Homo sapiens: one gene and its partner. The protein of the gene in region 1 interacts with the protein of each later gene in a pairwise test. Each region holds a gene or a part of one and is shown in the gene's direction. Other genes may lie near its edges.

What was found.
Region 2: the proteins of PLEKHA7 (region 1) and IGFL2 interact in binary tests that used the Homo sapiens proteins (3 or more experiments, as listed by UniProt).

Annotation. Positions count from the first base shown.
Region 1 is NC_000011.10:17,007,754-17,011,566, reverse strand, and holds part of PLEKHA7 (pleckstrin homology domain-containing family A member 7), read left to right. Parts: intron 1-3,813. UniProt on the Homo sapiens protein: Required for zonula adherens biogenesis and maintenance. Acts via its interaction with CAMSAP3, which anchors microtubules at their minus-ends to zonula adherens, leading to the recruitment of KIFC3 kinesin to the junctional site.
Region 2 is NC_000019.10:46,146,955-46,151,326, forward strand, and holds the start of IGFL2 (insulin growth factor-like family member 2 isoform b precursor), read left to right. Parts: upstream 1-1,283; 5' UTR 1,284-1,324; coding exon 1,325-1,343; intron 1,344-1,870; exon of another isoform or gene 1,871-2,031; coding exon of another isoform or gene 2,032-2,083; intron 2,084-4,372. UniProt on the Homo sapiens protein: Potential ligand of the IGFLR1 cell membrane receptor.

The DNA of each region.
Region 1 (3,813 bases):
AGAAGCCTTAAAGGACAAAATCTGACTGGAGTAGGTGGAAGATAAAACACGGGGTGAAGACAGGGAGTCAGTTAGGCAAATCTTCCAGGTAGTTTTGTTGCAAAGTGGAGTTGAGACATTAGCCGGTAATTGGAGAGGATGTGGGTTTGAGGGAGGGTTCTTTTTTTTGGTGGGAGATTGTACAGCATGTTTGTTTTGATGGGAATGATCCCACTGAGAGGAAGAAGTCGATGCTGCAGTAAAGAGACGGGGCAGTTGCTGGAGCAGTGTTTCTAAGAAGGTGAGAGGGATGGGATCCATGGCCTGCATCTCACTAGCGTCACCCAGGGGCAGGGCCCATCATTCATTTGGCGGGAGGAAGGGCTGCAAGTGTCCCAAAGTACCAGGTGCAGCCTTGGGCTGGGTGTGTGAGGCCGCGTGTGGGACTCTGGAGGCTGGAGCACAGCCTTCCACACCTTTGCTGACTCTTCCATGGTAACTTGTCTGTGAGGTCCCTAATGATTTTCCTACAGTGAGCTCCTGTGCCCCCAGGGCCTTGGCTGACTCCTCCCAGGCCTAGAAAAAGCAATGTGTGACAGTGTTCCCTACCCTCAAAGGCAGGGCCCTGTGGCAGGTGATTGTACTTCTGACGTCCTTCTGTGACAATTTTTTGAGAGACTTAAGGGTTTTGGGAGTAATTGTTCTCTCCCTCATCCCCCGCCCCCCACATGAAAAATGTTTTACTGTTGTCTGATTTCTTAGCTTTGCCGTGAGCATTTCTGAATGTTTGATTTTTGTGTTGAGGGCAGGAGCCTCCTCTAATCTGGCTCATAAAGTGAGAGCGACAAAGCATTGACATGGCTGATTTTATTTTTCCTAATGGCTCCTTGCACAGGAAAGTTGTGTGAGGTTTTACAGGATGTATTCAGTTGCTCCTCATATTTAGCAGATTAAAACATTTTAATTTTTGAAAAAATTTTAAGAAACAGAATCTTCCTCTGTCTCCTAGTCTGGAGTGCAGTGGTGCAATCATAGCTCACTGCAGCCTTGAACTCCTGGGGCCAAGTGATCCTCTCACTTCAGCCTCCCAAGTAGCTGGAACTACAAATGCAGGCCACCATGCCTGGCCAGCAAATGTTTTAATACTCTCCAGAGTCCATTTCTTTTCTTTCTTTTCTTTTTCTTTCTTTTTTTTTTTAAAGACAGCTTTGCTCTGTCGCCCAGGCTGGAGTGCAGTGGCACGATCTCAGCTCACTGCAACCTCTGCCTCTTGGGTTCAAGTGATTCTCATGCCTCGGCCACCCCCTAAGTAGCTGGGACTACAGGTGTGCACAACCATGACTGGCTAATTTTTGCATTTTTAGTAGAGACAGGGTTTCACCATGTTGGCCAGGCTGGTCTCAAACTCCTGACCTGAAGTGATCCGCCTGCCTCAGCCTCCCAAAGTGCTCGGATTACAGGCATGAGCCACTGTGCCTGGCCTCGGAGTCCATTTCTTGAAGCAGAAAAGCTTGAGGTTAGGCAGGTGAATTTTTGTTTTGATTTCTGCACTTTTTGTTCAATTTTGCATTAATGAGGGACAAAATGTATAAGAAATCTACTGTTGGTTCTCCCAGTTCTAGACTAAGTGATGTTGATAACCCCTTTAAAAAGATTTTTTGGCTGGGTATAGTGGCTCATGCCTGCAATTCCACACTTTGGGAGGCGGAGGCGAGGGGATCACTTGAGGCCAGGAGTTCAAGATCAGCCTGGGCAACACGGAGAGGCCTCATCTGTACAAAAAATGAAAAAATTAATGGTGGTATGCTCCTGTAATCCTAGCAACTTGAGAGGCTTAAGTGTGAGGATTGCTTGAGCCCAGGAGTCTGAGTTTACCATGAGCTATGATTGTGATACTGTACTCCAGCCTGGATGACAGAGTGAGACCCTGTCTGTAAATAAATAAATAAATAAATAAATAAAACGAAGACTTTTTGTACTCTAGCACTTCTCTACTATGAATCCCTTAGCTGGGTAGCAAGGTATAATAGTAATTGTGATAATAGTGTCATTAACAGAAGTAGCAATAATAGTAGTAATAATTATATAACAGCCTAATCTTTTTGGGTCTTTGAAAAATGCTAGGAACTGTTCTGTAACTGTCATTGATTTAATTCTCACAATAGTTTGATGAGGTAGGAACTACTACTAGTTTCGTTTTACAGACATAGAATCTTGCCGTAATCCTGGACATTCCTATAGCAGATGGTTTTTTTTCTTGTGTCTTTTCTTATTTGATCCTTATAGCAGCCCCTGGAGGCAGGAGGGGAAGAATCATCCCCATTCTTCAGATGATGAAACTCAGGTCCATGAAGGTTCAATGATTTTGCTGAAGTGTTAGAGCTGGGACTGGAACATAGGTCTTTGGTCCCTCATGTGATAGCCACAGTAGTAGTGGTAGCTCCTACCCCAGGCCATGCATCTTGAAGGAGATGAATGCCCATATGCCATTGCTCTGAGTTAGGCTTCCCCAAGGCTTATGGGGCCAGACTCCATCTTTGCTTTTTCTGGGGATTGAGGTACTTTGGAAGGGCAGTACCCCCTGGTCTCCTATGTTGATTAGGGGTGGTACATGTCTCTGATTAGTAAGAAATTGAAGACATTGATTATTAGTAAATACAATTTGGCAGACACAGCTTTTTCAAACATGGGACCTATGAGGGAGAAGTTTCTAGAAGAGGCCATGGGAGTTAGAGTATTACACTGGGCTGCTCTTCAGGGGTTTCATGGAACCTTGTGAATTCCGTTCCCCCTACAGCAGGCATTAAATAGGTCATGAGGCAATGAGGAGATGGCAGAGAAGAGGGGCTCAGCCACCTTGCCTGTGCCAAGGCTGTTCCTTGAAGGCAGGCATCTTATTCCCCACTTCTGTGACTTAGGCACCCAGCCCAGGGCTGGGAGCTGAGTAGGCACTTGGCATCTCTTGAGGAATCAGTGTTTTAAAGAGACCCAATGAGTTTTCTAGGTATTCCAGGTCTTGGAAAACTCCTTACTGGGAAGGAGATTGGGGTGGAGGAGAATAAGCAAGGTGAGAGAAGCTCAACAGCCAGGAACAGGCCTGTCAAGGCTGGTGCCTAGACCCAGGCTTCTTGGATACAGTCGCTTGCTGTTGAGAACAATGCTCAAAGCAGGAAGCTGGCTGGTGGAGGCTCAAACGGCCTCCTCTGCGTCTTCATTTCATATCCTTATTGCTCTGCATCTGGGACTGGGATACCTGTTGGCTACTGGACTAGGCTGTCTTCCTTCCCTGGCTGCTGGGCCCTTGGCATCATCTGTGACTTGGCACAAGGGTGCTGGCAGGAACCAGCTGATTGCACAAGACCCTTTCTAGCTTCAGGTTTCTCAGTTTTAGCTTTGGGGTTGTGTGGAGCCACCCTGTGTAGGTACTTTCTTCTTGTGGGTGCCTGTCCCCAAGTGAGGACAGCTAGACTCTGGGAAAGACATTTCTGAGGCTTGGAGTAAGGCTAACTTTCCCCTCCCCTAGGACCTGAAGCAGGTCCTAGGGGCAGGACTGGCTACATAATTTGCAGAGCCTCAGTGTAAAATGAAAATGCAAGGCTCCTTATTGAAAAAGAAGGAAAAAGTATTAGCTTGGTGCAAATGTAATTGCGGTTAGTGCTATTACTTTTAATGGTAAAAACTGCAATTACTTTTGCACCAACTGAATATCTTTAGGCCGGGCGTGGTGGTTCACACCCAGTAATCCCAGCACTTTGAATGGCCAAAGCAGGAGGATTGCTTGGGCTCAGGAATTTGAGACTAGCCTGGGCAACATGGTAAAACCCTATCTTTACA
Region 2 (4,372 bases), on another chromosome or scaffold:
CCCACATGGTATCCAGTGACACAAATAATAGTGATGGTGACAATAAAATAACAGTAAGAAACACAGAAGGAGCGTTTCCTTGGACAAAGCACTCCAGAAACAACAACAAAAAGGGGCTGCCTTTCCATCTATTCTATGAATCCCAGATGTCTATTTTATCACTGTCTGTTCCTTTTCTGTTCTCCCTGGCAGGGTTTTTACAGCCCCTGCTCTTTTTCTAGATTATGCTGCATCTTCACAGTTTCCCCTAAATGACTCTGAAGAATTATAGACAGTGCTGTCTACAATTATAATAATGGATATGGTGGTCCATTTCCAAGACAAAGTACCTCAGATAGGCTGAGGCCCACAAACTATGGAAGGACAGAATATACTAGGCCCATAGCTGGTGCATGCTTGTCGGGGTCCCCTTAGTTACCCTCTCCCAAACCAGAGTTTAGTCTAGAATGAAAGTTTACTAGCCAGCAAAATAGCTCACTTTATCTATTCTTATCAGCTTGCCTGACTGCCTAGGTCATAAGTCAAATACTTGAAAAGCCCTCGAGCTGGCTTTGATTGCAATGTATTATAGGCTGCAACAAAATGCAGTGAGACAATCCTAAAGAAAACACCTAAAAGCCTCAACCCAGCAACCAATAGGCGACGTCTGGGAAGATCGTGACCCCATCGTACTTAGCCTACGAGGAACCAGGGGAGAGACTTGTGCACTAGGGGATAAATAGCTTGTTGTAACCGTACTGGGTGTGCCTGCCTACCAGACATTCAATCTTGCAAGACCATCATTAAAAGTCTTGCTTCCACTGTTTTCTGTGTCTCTGAGTCCATTCTTTGGGTTTGGACGGGTGCGTTTGTTTCTCATAGTGCAGGTCTGGAGCCGGACTGAGATGGGGAGTAGAGGGACCCCTTGAAACTTCAGGGTGGATGAATATGAAGTTTCATCACCAGCTGTGATGTTTGGTGAGTAGTATGCTCTCAGATAAGTGAGAGCCAAGGAATCTCTTTCAAGTCTCTTTGCCGTGGGCAGAGTTCAAAGAATGACACTCACTCACGGCTTTGAAAGGTTCTAGGGAAGCCTTTACTCTGAGATTTCGAGAGGTCTGAGAAGGTAGCAGTCACTTGGAACAGGTCCAGGAACATCTTACTAAGCTGTTGATGCAGTTTTTTCTTATGCTTTCTGTGGCTTCTCATGCCCCACCCTTTCCAAGAGGCCAGTGCTTCTGGGCACCTCCCTAAATGTGGATAAGTTCATAGCCTACATAAGTCCCTGTATAAAGTCACTGACCCATTTGCACTGCTGCTGTCCCATCAGCTGCTCTGAAGCTCCATGGTGCCCAGAATCTTCGGTAAGGTAACCCTTGCCCCAGGTTGAGCTAATGCCTACTGTTATCCCTAATGTACCTCTGAACCTCAAACTTAATTCTCTCTTCCCTATTTAATTCTTGGTTTCCCACCTCATAATCACCCGTGTCCTCTCTGACTGCATTGCAATCTCTCTTCCCCACCTGCAAATTCCAGAAGCTTAACCCTTTCCAGAGCCCTCCCTGCATTTCCTCACCTGCCAAGCCCAATGCCCAGAACCTGCACACAGAGTCAGTCCCAAAATCTGCTCTGAGCTGTTACAGCAACCAAAGAAACTCAGAGACATCATCTTGTGCCCCATGATCATGATCTGGTGACCCCAGAATCACTGTCATTCTTCTCTCAGCTGATCTTTATTTTTGAACTCCTGGGCTCAGACTCAGAAGGGACCATAGGTGAGAATGGGTGTGGTGAGTGGAGGGAGAAGAAAGGAGGGAGGATTATAGCACTGTGGATAGGGTTGGGGGCTCCCAGAGGTCCCCTGCCAGCTCATCAGCTCTGACTCTTCCAGATATTGGACTGTGGTTGTGCCAGTTGACACTCAGGAGTGGAGACTAGATCTGCAATCTGTTGGGACTGTGATGAGGGGATCATCCTGCCCTCGAACCAGACCCAGCCCTGTAGCCCAGGCACTATTGCCTGGAGTTCCTGGGCTCTCAGCGCCAGGAAATCATGAGGTTCAGTGTCTCAGGCATGAGGACCGACTACCCCAGGAGTGTGCTGGGTAAGTAAGGGCAGCCCAGGCAGTGGACTGAGTTTTGTTGTGTGTATTCCATCAAGATGAGCAATGCCTGCTGTGTTCACTAACTTCTTTTTGGGCAACCATCTCTCTCTCTCCCTCTCTCTCTTCTCTCTCTCTCTCTTCTCTCTCTCTTTCTCTCTCCCTCTCTTTCTCTCTCCCTCTCTTTTCTCTCTCTCCCTTTTCTCTCTCTCTCTCTTTCTCTTTCCCACTCACCCCTCACCCTTTCCACCTCTCCCCCTCTTCCCCTCTCCCCCTCCCCCTCCCCTCCCCATCTCCCTGTGTCCCTCTGTCTCACATCCCCCTCTCTTCTCTTCCCCTCTCCCCTCCCTGTCTTTTCCCTCCTCTCCTTCCTTCTCTTCCTTCCTCTCTCAAGTTGAAGGAAGAGTAGCTCAGTCATCTTCCAGAATTGCTTTTTACCTCCGAGTCACCTGGCTCCATAGCCCCCGACCACCGCATGCCCATTTAGCTGTTCCTCTCTTTCCCCTCTACCCTCACCCTTGGCAACCACCAGTCAGCTTTCTGTCTCTATGGATTTACCTATCTGGGACATTTCATATAAATGGAATCACACCATTTATAAGTGACCTTTCGTGTAACTTTTTTTTTAACTTAATGTTTTCAAGGCATATCCCCATTATAGAATTTATTAGTACTTCATTCCTTTTTACAACTGAATAAATTCAATTGTATCCATGTATCAGCATTCATTTATCCATTCATCTGTTGATGGACACTTGGGCTGTTTCCACCATTTGGCTATTGTGAATAGTGCTGTTACAAACATATGTATACATGTATTTGCTTGAGAACCTGTTTTCAGTTATCTTGGGTGTACACATAGGAGTGGAATTGCTACGCCACATGGTAATTCTGTTTAACTTTTTGAGGAATTGGCAAACTGTTTTCCACAGAGCTGCATCAATTACATTCCCACCAGCAGTGTATGAGGGCTCACATTTCTCTCCAGATTCTTCAACCTTTGTTATTTTCTATTTTCCTGTTTATTACAGTCATCTGGGTGGGTGGGTGTGATATCCTGTGTAGTTTTAATTTGCGTTTCCTTGGTAAATAACAATGCTGAGTGTCTTTTCCATGTGCTTATTGGCCATTTGTATTCCTTTTTGAGAAAAGGTTTATTCAGATTTTTCCATGTTTAAATTGGGTTATTTATTTTATTATTATTTAGTTGTAAGAGTTTTAGAAGATATGCTGGATACTCATCCCTTATCATATATATAATTTGCAAATACTTTCCTCATTATGTGGATTGTGTTCATTTCCTTGATGCTATTGCTTGCAGTGCATAGGTTTTTAATTTTTGATGAAGTCTATTCTTTCTTTTCTCTCTTGTGCTTTTGGTGTAATATCTAAGAAAATATTACCTAACTCGAGGTCATTAAGACTTACTTGTATGTTTTCTGCTAGGAATCTTTTTAAGAAGTTGACAAAGAATAATTGTGTATATTTATGGGGTAAAATATGATGATTTAATGTATGTTTGCCTTGTTAAATGATAAATCAAATTAATTACCATATCTACCACCTAATATACTTATTACTTTTTGTCACTAGAACATTTAAAATATACTCTTCAGCAATTTTGAAATATACAACACACCATTTGTTTTTTTAAGAGGCAGGGTCTCACTCTGATGCCCAGTCTGGAGTGCAGTGGTGTGATCACAGCTCACTGCACCCTCTACCTCTGAGGCTCAAGTGATCCTTCCACCTCAGCTCCCAAGTAGCTGAGACCACAGGCACGCACCACCACACCATGCTAATTTTGTTTTTCATAGAGACGATGTCTCACTGTGTTGCCCAGGCCGGTCTCCAACTTGTAGGCTCAAGCAACCCTCCTCCTTGGCCTCCCAAAGTGCTGGGATTGCAGGTATGAGCCATCACGTCCAGCCCACAATACACTATTATTTATTATAGTCACCGTGCCCTGCAGTGGATCTCTAAAACCTATCTTTCCTGTCTAACTGTAACTTCATATCATTTGCTTATCTCCCTGTTGCCCATCTGCCCACACCAATCCTCTGGTAACTGCCCTTCTCTCTACTTCTATGAGTTCAACTCTTTTAGATTCTACATACAAGTGAGATGGTGTGGTATTTGTCTTTCTGTGGGTTGCTTATTTTACATTTCTGCTAAGAGTTTTATATGTTCGCTCTTGTATTTAGGTCTGTGATACATTTTGAGTTAATCCTTGTGTATGGTATGAGGAAGAGATCCTCTTTCTGCCCACTCTTTTGTGTATGAATATACAGT